Regions from separate parts of the Homo sapiens genome. Here regions 1 and 3 are each reported to be linked to region 2. Evidence: microRNA targets listed by miRTarBase, many of them from high-throughput screens and not tested one by one. Region 2 holds a microRNA gene; each other region holds the end of a gene's coding sequence.

The links. The annotated mature microRNA hsa-miR-1205 reads UCUGCAGGGUUUGCUUUGAG and lies in region 2 at 2,773-2,792, opposite strand. An mRNA with a match to its seed (bases 2 to 7 or 8) in the 3' UTR can be bound and repressed. Matches are read on the target gene's strand: a 7mer-m8 pairs with bases 2 to 8, a 7mer-A1 pairs with bases 2 to 7 and ends in A, and an 8mer does both.
Region 1: the mRNA of GGA2 is a reported target of hsa-miR-1205. Seed matches in the 3' UTR shown: 7mer-A1 at 388-394.
Region 3: miRTarBase lists USP46 as a target of hsa-miR-1205. The part of its 3' UTR that is shown has no 7-base or 8-base seed match.

What each region holds. Positions count from the first base shown.
Region 1 is chr16:23,463,778-23,467,833 of GRCh38, reverse strand. GGA2 (golgi associated, gamma adaptin ear containing, ARF binding protein 2) reads left to right here. Exons shown (of 17, transcript NM_015044.4): 17 at 134-4,056. The coding sequence ends at 244. Among named protein-coding and RNA genes, the nearest start is that of COG7, 13 kb to the right of the region's middle.
Region 2 is chr8:127,959,365-127,963,431 of GRCh38, reverse strand. MIR1205 (microRNA 1205) reads right to left here and starts at 2,799; the gene lies at 2,737-2,799. All of the region lies in intron 3 of PVT1 (Pvt1 oncogene), which reads right to left. RefSeq lists a cis regulatory region at 2,930-3,041 and an enhancer at 2,448-3,423.
Region 3 is chr4:52,593,866-52,597,921 of GRCh38, reverse strand. It overlaps USP46 (ubiquitin specific peptidase 46), which reads left to right. Exons shown (of 9, transcript NM_022832.4): 9 at 181-4,056. The coding sequence ends at 282. Among named protein-coding and RNA genes, the nearest start is that of USP46, 63 kb to the left of the region's middle.

The sequences.
Region 1 (4,056 bases), not on the chromosome of region 2:
GTTTGTAGTCCCAAAGAGAGTATCCCAGGTATTTTGTGTCAGAATTGTTTGAAACACTCACTTGACTTAACATTGACCCCTGTTCCTGGGTTGCTCTCCACTGATTTGACATCTTCTGTCTCTTCTGTCCCAGGAACCTATCCGCTTACGGTACAAGCTGACATTCAACCAAGGTGGACAGCCTTTCAGCGAAGTAGGAGAAGTGAAAGACTTCCCAGACCTGGCTGTCTTGGGCGCAGCCTAACTTTTCACAAGATGGACCCTTCATTTCAAGCTTAGGCTGGCGTTACTTTTGCTGTCTAGTCAGGACTAATCACGGTGTTTCAGTGCGGAGTGCCAAGAGTCCTATCCTGACGTCAGGCTCTGGGTGTCAACCTCTGACTTATTCTGCAGATGCTCTGTGTGTGTGTGTGTGTGTGTGTGTGTGTGTGTGTGTGTGTGTGTGTTCGGGGAGAGGGTGGTAGCACAGGGCTTGGGATATCGGCAGTGTGGGAAATGCGAAGCATTTCTCATCATCATCATCTCTGCTACAGTCATGTTTCTGCATGTCAGCGAGCGACACTGTCCCTGCCTCAGGTTGGAGGTTTTATCAGCCAAAGTGTTTTTTTCATGTATCGTTCGTTCCATTCATCCACTCTGTGCCTTGTCAGCCTTTGAAAGGCTTGGTTGCTCCCAGGCTGCTGTTCTCAGGGACCTTAAAAGGGACCTGGTTAGTCTTGGGGCAGAGAGTATCTACTTGGGCACTCTCTTCCAAGAAAGACCTTGTCTCCATTTTCATTAGACAATGCTTCTTGTGTGTGTTCTGGAAGATCTTCTAAATGGAATGCTTGTTGCACTGTTCCCAGGCGAGTGGCTGCCATGAGACCTGAGGACCACACTTGGGGGACCAATCATGTCCTTCACCACTGTGCCTTAGAATCGCCCCTGGACAGAGTTCCTGGGCAGAGGGGAAAGCAGCTCCCAGGCCTTACTCAGGCCTCAGGTCCATGGGTTGGGCAGCCAGTCTGGGCCCTTCTCAGGATCCTCATCTCCATCCTCATCCTCTTCCTTCACAGCATTTACTTGGAGCTCTTTGTGACACACCATGTCAGTCATGATGAATCGGCCAACAGCCAGCCCTTGCCAGCTGACGTCACAGTCTAAGATGGGAAACTGTGGTACAGATAGACATGAAGAGAGCTTAGCAGTGATTGAGGTGGTGACTAAATATACAGTCATTGAATAAATACCATGTAGCAAGTGTACTTTGTGGAGTGTTGAGTAAGTGGAAAATGGAAAGCCAGTTGCATTTAGAGATGATAGGCCTAAAGGGAACTGTCTTCTGTCGAGAAGTAAAGGAAACTTCATGAAGGATGTAGAAGCTTAGCTGCCTCAGAGAAGAGAGAACCTGAAGATCTGAGGCAAGCTGGACAGGAGAGGTGGATATTTGTTGATGGAAGAATTCAAGTTTATAATCAATTCCCACTTAGCACCTACTGTGTGCTAGGAACTTGAATGTGTATGTTTGACAAGTCCTGCTTGGCCTGATGGGTGGGAGAAGGAACCTGAGCCTGGCTGAGATGGCTAGGCGGAGGGCTTTGAAGTCCAAGCAGCTGAACTGGCTGGGTGGGTTTCTACCTTTGAAACTGCAAGACTTGTTTGGAGCTCTTAATTACAATATCTGATATTTTTACAGTCTGATCTTTTGACTTCTACATATAGTGGAAATCTGCCAATACTAATTGGTGGAGATGGGAACTGTAAAAGATCAAGTATGCTAATTTTAAGCAAATGTAAAAACTCATAAAACAGGTAAACAGTGGGGTGATTTCATTTGCCATAATTCACATAAGACGAATTTTAATCTAAAAGTACTTTCTTGCTTGTATTCTGTGTGGCTTTTTTTTGTTTTTTGAGGCCATATCTCACTCTGTCACTCAGGCTGGAGTGCGGTGGTATAATCTCAGCTCACTGCAATCTCTGCCTACCAGGTTCAAGCGATTCTCGTGCCTCAGCCTCTCGAGTAGCTGGGACTACAGGCGTGAGCCAGCACGCCCAGCTAATTTTTGTATTTTTAGTAGAGACAGGATTTCACCATGTTGGCCAGGCTGGTCTCGAACTCCTGACCTCAGGTGATCCGCCTGCCTTGGCCTCCCAGAGTGCTGGGATTACAGGCGTGAGCCACCGCACCCGGCCTCTGTGTAGCTTTTATAGGCTCTGTTACTGTTGCGTAGTCTTGAAGAGGTACCCATCATAATGACAGCATCTCCCTCTGAAGGGTTTTGGTCAAAATGGGTGAATGAGACTTATACATAAAGACAGGCTTTCTCCCCTATAGTTAGGAGGTGAACTCACACATGTGTACCTGAACATTCTTGCTTTTGAGGAGACAGACTCCCAGTGGTACTACTATGCTTAGGTGTTGGACAGGATAGGGGTAGGAGGAGAGGAGGCAGGCTGCTGTCCTGAAAGTGGCTGTGGTTTATGGCATCACTCCCTTCTAATCAGCAAGTCCAGTGGCCACTTAGAGCCCAGCTCCTACCTCTTCATTCACTTAACAAGTAGTTATTGGCTGTGCACAGTGGCTCACGCCTATAATCCCAGCATTTTGGGAGGCTGAGTGGGATGACCGCTTGAGCCCAGGATTTCAAGTCCAGCCTGGGCTACATAGTGAGACCGTGTCTCTGTTTTTTTAAAAGCTAGTTGTTGACCAGCTACCCTGAGCCAGGCACCACCCTGAAGGAGCTTCTTTTCCTCTGGGGAGAAGCAAATTCATGATGTGTGTGCTGGAGATCTGGCACTCATGGCCAGTGCTTTCCAGTATCTTGAACTCTTCGGGGGTCCTGTTGACCCATTTCGTGACCTACCTCCGTGACTGCTCTTTTTCCTCTGTCTCTTAAGTGTGATGGTTTTCCAGAGTCCAATCCTCAGGACTTTCCCGTCCACACACAGGCCTGGTAGTCAGGTGGCTCTAAACCATTAGGTGGGTTGTAGACCTCTCTCAAGCTGCCACCTCCTTGCTGTCGCCAGATCGTATTTCAGTCTGTCAGGGGTTATCTGTATCTGGAGGTTCCACTGTTGCTTCAGTCTCAGTTACTTAGAATGGAACCCAGAGTCCTGCCCCTTTCCACCTACATGCTCTTACTTGAAAGCACCTGAGACTTATTGGGTCCCTGATTCCTGCTTCGTCTGTATCCGCAGAGTAGTTGCATGTCATTTGGCCTGTTTTCTAAATAATCCCACATCATGTCCTCCCTGCACTTACATTGCCACTGCTCTGATTTGGGCTTTTTTTTTTTTGGGACAATGCCTCTGTCCCAATTCTGAGTAACAGCTCTGGTTCTTGCCACTACCAGAGTTCTCTAGCAAATCTGAGCATCTGACAGGGTGAAAAATTCTGAATGGCTTCCTGATGCCTGACTTTATGGGATCAAATTCAAGTTGCACGCTGGCACTCAGTGCCCTTCTGGTATCATCTGCCAAGACCAGGGCCTGCTTCACCACAGCCACAATAAAGTCCTTTCAAGCCCTGATAATGCCATGTTTTGTCCTAACCTTTTGCTGCAGTTAATTACTCTTCCTATTATCTTCCATGAACTTAAGACTGGGCAAAAATGTTTCCTTATCTGTGAGCCACTCTGAACACAAACAGGTCATGAAGATAGTGTTGAAAACAATAAATGACAACCAAAAGAAAAGTGAATATTACCTAGTACAAATAGTGTAAATTGAGACAGAAAATGTTAAAGCTAGAAAGCAAGGGCAATATTCTAGAATACAAATAGTGCTTGCCTACTACAATATTAATCCCAAATCCTTTAAATATACCCATTATAGAAGATGCTTACCCAGCGTCAAGAGTATAAAAGTGGGTTTGTTTGTTTTCTTGAGACAGGGCTTTGCTCTGTTGCCCAGGCTGGAGTGCAGTGGCGTGATTGTAGCTCAATGCAGCCTTGAATTCCTGTGTTCAGGCGATCCTCCGGCTTCAGCCTCTGGAGTAGCTGGGACTACAGGTGCATGCTGCCACGCCCAGCTAATGTTGCAGTTTTTCGTAAAGACTGGATCTCTGTGTTACCC
Region 2 (4,067 bases):
TCCAATAACAACGCTAGTGTAAACAACCACACTCACCCATGCACCAAACAGGTGGCAAATCTCACCAGGTGTCAGACACTGAGAGAAGCACCAGGGACACACAAATGGCAAACCCCAGTCCTGCCCCGTGGACCGCACCATCCAAGGTAGAGGGCAGGCAGTCACCAACATGGTGGCAAGTGGCCGATGCGAGCCTAGGACCTGGGATAACAGAGCATGGTGTGAAGTCAGCCTGGGCAGGGGCAGGAAGGCTGCCGTGCGAGGGGTGGAAGATCTCAGAACTGAAAAGATCCTGTCTTGGGCACTTCTAGGAAGAAGAGAAAGCTGCTGGGCAGGGTGAGACCCAGACTCTGTTGAGGAAAGAGAGGAGAGCTGGCCAGCCCGATCTCAATCCCGCAGGCCAGAGGTCCATTGGGGCCCTCTTCCAAACACCTCCTCTTCCCTGACCACCCCAGTGAGGATCTGACACTACTGCCCATCTGCAAGTAAAATAGGGACTGCTCCTTTGTAAAACAGGGACCCTAAAATGCAGATGAGGCCAGGCATGGAGGCTCATGCCTGTAATCCCAGCACTTTGGGAGGCCGAGGTGGGCGATCACCTGAGGTCAGGTGTTTGAGACCAGCCTGGCCAACACGGTGAAACCCCGTCTCTACTAAAAATACAAAAATTAGCCAGGTGCAGTGGTGTGCCCCTGTAATCCCAGCTACTCGGGAGGCTGAGACAGCAGAATCACTTGAACCCAGGAGGCAGAGGCTGCAGTGAGCCGAGATAGCACCCCCGCACTCCAGCCTCGTCAACAAATCGTCAACAAAAAAAAATAAAATGCAGACGAACCTCCAGAAGACAAGGACAAAAACCGCAACCTGGGTGTGAGAACACCCAGGCCCTAGGCCTTAAGAGGGATGGTAACCCCTAGCCCTGTCATCTACAAAATAAGGTCACAGCAGAGCTAGATGATCTATAATGTCACAGCTGAAGTTAAAAAATTCAATGAGTTGATCACACCCAACTCAAGGTGCTGGCTTAAGGATTAAGAAGGAACACATGTGTCAAAAACCATTAGGCTGCAAAGCAGTGCCACCGATGATCATGTGTACAACAACAACCCCCTAAATGTGTGGCCCACTCCCAGTGAGCCAGCCCTGGGCTCAGAATTCTACATTCATGGCCGGGAGCGGTGGCTCACGCCTGTAATCCCAGCACTTTGGGAGGCCAAGGCAGGTGGATCACGAGATCAAGAGATTGAGACCATCCTGGCCAACATGGTGAAACCCCGTCTGTACTGAAAATATAAAAATTAGCTGGGAGTGCCCCTGCAGGCCCAGCTACTTGGGAGGCTGAGGCAGGAGAATCGCTTGAACCCCAGAGGCGGAGGTTGCAGTGAGGCGAGATCGCGCCACTGCACTCCAGCCTAGGCGACAGAGCGAGACTCCGTCTCAAAAAAAAAAATTCTACATTCATTATCTCCTTCGTCCTCACAACAAACCTGGAGAATGCAGAGGTGCTACATTTCTACCCACTTTATAGACCAAAATGTGAAGTTACAGGTTAGTCATTGTTGAAGCCAGAAACCAGGAGTCAGACTCGGGCAGGGGGGGCCTCTGGAGCTCCTGAAGGCCATCCCCACTCCCTAAACAAGGTTGAGAAGGTGTGGTTTAAAGAGGAACACCATGGAAGGAAACCAGTGCTTTCTTCACTTTTTAGTCTGGCAAAACAATCCTTCAAGTTGTTCCGTGGTTTGGAGAACAGTAATGTGTATGGGTAACAGGTGCTCAGTGGTACGGACAAGGTTATACATTTCCAGCCTCAGAGTCTTCAAGGCAGCTTGCTGGTAGGAGAACCTGGATTTGCTCATGCAGTCTTGGGCACAGCCCTCACTTACCTTAGATGCTCACCCAGCTTGGGGTGGGGCACAGCCCCTCCAGACTCCAGCCCAAACAATCCCCATCACCTCCGCATTTCCTAGTACAACACACAGCACCGAATCTATTCAGTGGCCTAAGCTGGACACAGAAAAGAACATTTTACCCCTTCCTTCCTGTAACCCCAGAGGCTCTTCGTGCACCGCGTTCAGGGACTTCTCTCTTGGGTCTCCAGTGCATCCCTGTCTCCTCCAGCTCAGGCCCCGTCACCACTGGCCACCAGCTTGGACCTCCCTCTGATCTTGTCTTCCTATGGCAGAGGCCATGCTTTCTGAAATGCTAATCTCTCCCTCTCTCACCTCTGCTTAAAATCTGCATCATGAGACCATCGCCCTCAGCACAAAGTCAAAATGGTCTTTCTAGGATCTGGCCTCTGCTTACCTTTCCTGTCTCCCTCCTGCCTCTTCTCTGGGCAAACTCCTTCCTTCCCCTGACCACCCTAAGTCCACACCCTGGGCCCTTCTGTGTGCCTATGGCACCCTGTGTCCCCAGGCAGGCACCTTGGCTGTGATTATCTGATTTCTCATCTAAATTCCTCCCCTATTCGTGCCCGCCCGCCCCCCCCACCCCCAAACACACACACAAGAGAACAAAAAATCTCTAAGGAAAAAGAGCACTTCCAACTCATTCCTGTACTTCCAGAATGCATGCAGCACCATGCCTGGCCTGCAGTATGTGCTCAATTAAACTATTGCATAATGAGAAATACCCTATGTTTTGAAGTGTCCAGGAAATTGAAACAATAATACTCTCTCCCCACAAAAAACAGAAAACAGTTATCTATGCCTCAGTTTTTGTGTCTGAAAAATGGAGACAGACTCCAGAACAGGGTTGACAGGAAGGAAGTACCTCAAAGCAAACCCTGCAGAGGCCTTCAGTGATAAGTGTTCACTTTCCCTATCTTCAGCTTGCTGATTTCCCTATCGTGGTGCATCCATCCAGAAGGCCACAAAGATCCTATCTCCCACCAACTGAACTTCAAAAGCATCTTTATCTGCAGAACCCACCTCAAGGAAGGTCGATTCCTAACTTCTCTCGGTGATCCTTTTATTCTGGGCTAGCTAGGCACACCCGCCCAGCCTTATCTGTAATGTCCCCAAGCTGTTGTCTTTCCAGGAAGGGTGTCTCCTATCTACAGGCCTCCAGGAGGCAAGACCAGGGAGGCAAATGGAGGAGAGCCACTCTGTGACCTGAGATCTGGCTTCTGCCACCCTCAAGCTGTGTGACCTGGGACAAATCAACCCATTCATCAGAGGCTCAGCTTCCCCATGTACCCCTCTGTTCAAAAAAGGGAGTAGACTCACGGACCCTCCAACTTGGAAACTGCAGTAACAGGCTGTACTGGACATGTTGAATGAACACCACAATGGCTGCCTAAGCCGATCCCTTCTAGCAAAAGAGGGAGAGTGAAGCAGAAAGAAATCAGGGAAATTTCCAGAAATCATGTCATCCTGGGTTGCCTGAAGATGACAAAACTACGACGTACAGGAGACCCCTTCCAGGAATCACATACTGCATCCGGGGAAGGCCAGAAGTAAGTGCAGACATACATGAAAAGGCAGGCATTAGGGATGGTTAAGTGGATGCCAATTCCCTGCTTCCAGAAATGAACTCAGCCTAATGAAAATTCTGCAGGCGCCTCACCTGTATATTGCACTTGGGGCTAGGAGTGCAAGCCACCCAGGGGCTCCTGACGGGCTGCTCACCTAGGTCCCAACCCCCTTCTGCCATTTCCTAACCGGTTTGTTCTCAGCCTCTTTGAACTTCAGATGCTGAGCAGCTTAACAATGTCTGAACAGCCTAAATCAGCCTCTGGCCCATTAAAGATGTCTGTTTCCTGCCTCCTTTCCTTAAAGAGTTTCAATAAGAAGAGCTCCTTTAAGGGTAGGCACTGGGTCTTTTTTTTTTTTTTTTTTTTTTTTCCTGAGACAGAGTCTCGCGCTGTTGCCAGGCTGGAGTAGAGTGGCGCCATCTCGGCTAACTGCAACCTCTGCCTCCCGGGTTCAAGCGATTCTCTTGCCTTAGCCTACCGAGTAGCTGGGACTATAGGCACGTGCCACCACGTGCAGCTAATTTTTGTATTTTTAGTAGAGATGGGTTTTCACCATGTTGGCCAGGCTGATCTCGATCTCTTGACCTCGTAA
Region 3 (4,056 bases), not on the chromosome of region 2:
ATGTGATGATGTCCTTTAGCCAAGTCTGTGGAATTCTCCATTTGCTATTGAAAGTTCCTAATGATGATTTCATAACAAATTGTGTTCCTTGCATTTTAATATATATTCCATTAGTTTTTATTTCCTTTCCCCAGGAATCATGTTAAGTAATTGTGTTGTTTTCTTTCTCCTTTATTGCAGAAAATAGATGCTCAAGCTATTGAAGAATTCTATGGCCTGACGTCAGATATATCAAAAAATTCAGAATCTGGATATATTTTATTCTATCAGTCAAGAGAGTAACTGAAAGACCTGCGGGACTGATTCACGTGGGGAGAATGTTCACAGCACTGTCACCCGGCTTCTCCGCAGGCTTTCCTCTTCCCCAGTGGCCCACTAATGGTATCACTCCGAGTCTCAATGGTCTGGCTGTGTTAGACTCTCTCCTTTTGTGTTTTTACATGCAGCACTACTCTTGGTTTTATTTCAGTCTGACATAGAGTTAACTGCAATCAGATTGTAGTCTGATTTATATGAATAACGGTTGCTAATTTTAGGACTGGGTGAAAGCTATGCCATTCATTATGTCTGGCTGTATTAGAATGACATTTCCTATGAATGTCTACGGTCTGTTTTAGGTGTTTGCTAAACTTCTATGGCTTCCAGGGTCTTCTTACAATGCATTCCTTTAACTTGTCCCTGGAAGCATTGCTACCCATTTTCAGCTTCTCTGCCTCTCTTCTGATACAAGGACAGAAGAATTGGGTAGATATTCACCTTTTAGGGGTGCAAGTATAGCTTTAAGTTTGTGCAAGTGAAAATGTTGAAAAGTGAGTAACCTCGATATTAAAATCATCCTTGACATGAAACAGGGTGAAGAGAAGCTGTCCGTGGCGGCTGGTGTTGGCTGGCATTGGCACTGGGCTGTGCTGACCTAGCCATTACAATTCCAGGGGCTAAGAAGGCTCAGGGCAGACAAAGTCAAGAGGAGGAAGTTTTTGTGGACAATGAAAAGTTATTTTCGTACCTTTCTACCAAAACCAAGTTTCAGGAAAATAACTCTATGTTGTTTATTTTCAGTGACACTTATGTAAGGCCCTGTGAGTTGTATTTATCCTGTATCCGGCACTGCTAAGCTTTTCAAGGTATCTTTCCAATCCTGCTGATGTGGCAGTCAATGGCTGCAGGGCTGGCAAACCTCCCCTTAGCCAGTCAGCACGGCATTGTTCCTTATCAGGAATAACAAAGGTACTACATCTTTCCAGCCATCAGCACGTTGTACAACTTAACTTTTTAACATAGTCCGTCTGTTTACTGAGGCACTGGCGAGTCCCAGGGCTGATACAGAACCTTCCCTAGAGGGAATACCAGAGTTAGCTGGGTATAGAGGTGGCTCAAAGGAAGTGTCCGTGGGCAGGGGGAGGAATGAACAAAATGGCGCTGTTTCTTTGGCTCAGACTCCTAGAATGCTTGACAAGACAGAATTTTTTTGGAAGAACCTCATCTCACTATAGTTACTTTTTTCACTTTTGTTATATATGTATTTATTAGAGCATTTGAATATTGGTACCTTTAAAAGGGTCATTTGGTGTTTTGCTGTTGAGCTGGTTTTTGAGTCATAGATCTTGGCTTCCTTTAGAAGCCACTTAACTTCCATACACTATAATAAACTGTGAACATATTTTTGTTACCTAATGCATCCACTGATGAACATGCAAACTTTGGGCATAATGTGAACTAAAATTGAAATGGAAAATGTTAGTGGCCATTTTGCAACAATGAAGAGGATAGCACTTTATCTAGATGAAAACTGGATTTCTTATCTTTGAAATATCTTGAACTGTTTATTGCTCAGAACTTAAGTAAGCATGCCAACATTTCGTTTGTTTATGCTTGAAGTGAAATGTTTTACTTTTCACTGGAGAAGACAAAACAGGGTGATCTTCATGTTATTGTTTTATACAAGTGATGGAAATGTACCTTGCCTTGTTTAGAGGCAATTTCACATTTATAAATATTTTTTTTTCCTCCATGAAACTTACGCAGTAATCACTACCTGGAAGGTGAGTTTTGATCTCTTTTTAAGGAGAGGCACTTTCCAACTGAAGGTGATTGATGTAGGGAAATGTTTGTACTATATAGAATCCATATATTTGACTGCAAGTTACAAAGTTTTAAGAACATGATGGTTGGTCTCTAATATATTTGGAACTGATTCATAAGAAAAGTTATTAAAATTATCTTTGAAACACCTCTTGAAGCTAATTTATTAGAAAAAATATTTCAGTTGGAAGGCTGTAGAAGTAATGTTTAAATGCTAAGTCATAAGTTCAGGATATTTCTTTTCTATTTGGTTGTGCAAAATGTTTTTCCCAGTTATTTAATCGAAGTAATTCCTTTTAATAGAAAGAGTCAGTTAAAATTCAGCATTCATGGATAGATTTTTGGAACGAAAAAGGGTAAGTATAAGAAAATATTGCAAACACATTAAAACAGTTGTATGGTGCAGGAAAAGAAGATTGGAAAAAGACCAAAACACACTTCTCCAGCAACACTCCATCAGCTTTTTAAAATTTAGAGCTATCTGCTAATTTTTTCCCTCTTCCTTCTCAATAAATGAAACAAACACTGGGCAGCTGCAGGTTTCTCCCAATCATGTCTCTTTATGTAAAGACAGTAACATGCAAACACTTTTAGTTTACATCCCTCATTCACAGTGTAAAGCAGGAAATGGTGTGGGAGATGTGAGACCATTCTGAGGTCAGCGATAGCCCAAAGGCTCTGCAGTATTCCCTCCAATGGCCAAGGATTCCGTGTGTCATCTGCAGGAGTGAGTAGGCCTGCTGTATTTCTTGTAACTGCTGGGTGTTACAAAATAAGTTACAATGTTTTACACTTTAAAAAAAAAACAGAAGGAACATTTGCTTTATTGGTTACTTACTAGTTTAGCCTCTAGGTTATGGCACAGCATGCTAAAAAATCATGTGTTTAAAAGTAAATGTTGGTAAAATGCTGGCATCTGGTCCTATTGTGTTGATGCATTTTCACTTCTGTGGTCATAGGAAATGGACTGGTCTAAAGAGAGTGAGGCACAACACAAGCAGGGCATTAGTTTGAATAGGAAGTCAATCATATTTGGTTTTATGGCCTGGTGTATTTTGGGTTTAAGATAAAATAGGGAAAAATGTCAGAAATGATCCCTATGCATTTATTTTCATGGATACCCTTAATTTCATGGGCATGCCTAATAATGATCTATGTTCTAACTGGAGCTTAGGGCTTATTTTAGATATTGGAGTGTAGCTTTATTACAGATGGATTTTATCTTTCAACATTGCATTTTGATCAACTTTGTATATTCACGTGTATTAAAATATTGTGCACTAAATGTTTTGCCCTTGTTTGCTATTATATGGTCAAGGCATTTATCAGCACTATTGTAATGAACTCATGTAAGTGGCATGGGTCAGGGAAAATTATTTCCTACTTTTCTGCCTAATTAAATTTCTGTTTTCCAGTATTACATTAATTTATTTTTGGCTTCCATTTCTGTATAACCAAAATAGTTACTGTATTTGTGTGGCATTCCTATTATTTTGTTGCTAAAAATATTGTAGTTTTTATTTAAAATAATCTGTACCTTAATTTTTTAAAATGTAACCAATTCAAGCACTTTAAGCAATAATGTCAATCTTGTGAAATTTTAATCAGTTTAACACCCTGCCTCTAAAATTGTTTGCAAAAAATAAATAAATGAATAAAATGGGAATTCTCTTTCTAGAGAATTATATCCGGGTAATGCTACACACATGGACTTAAAATCCTTTTTATAAAGTGTGAGTCAGTGGCAGGTCTTATGTCCAAGTAATTATTACAAACAATTTTGAAGCAGTGGAAATGTACAGAACATTCTGATCATTATAATATATAAAGGCAGTATTACTCTCAAGGTTGATAAAAATCAATGTTCTGGAGATAACTCATCACTTTTTTTGAGTGAAAAAGATCAACAGAATTTAATTCAGGAAATGGTATCTGGAGAATAGCAAATTGAGAATATCAGTGAAAAGAATTTAG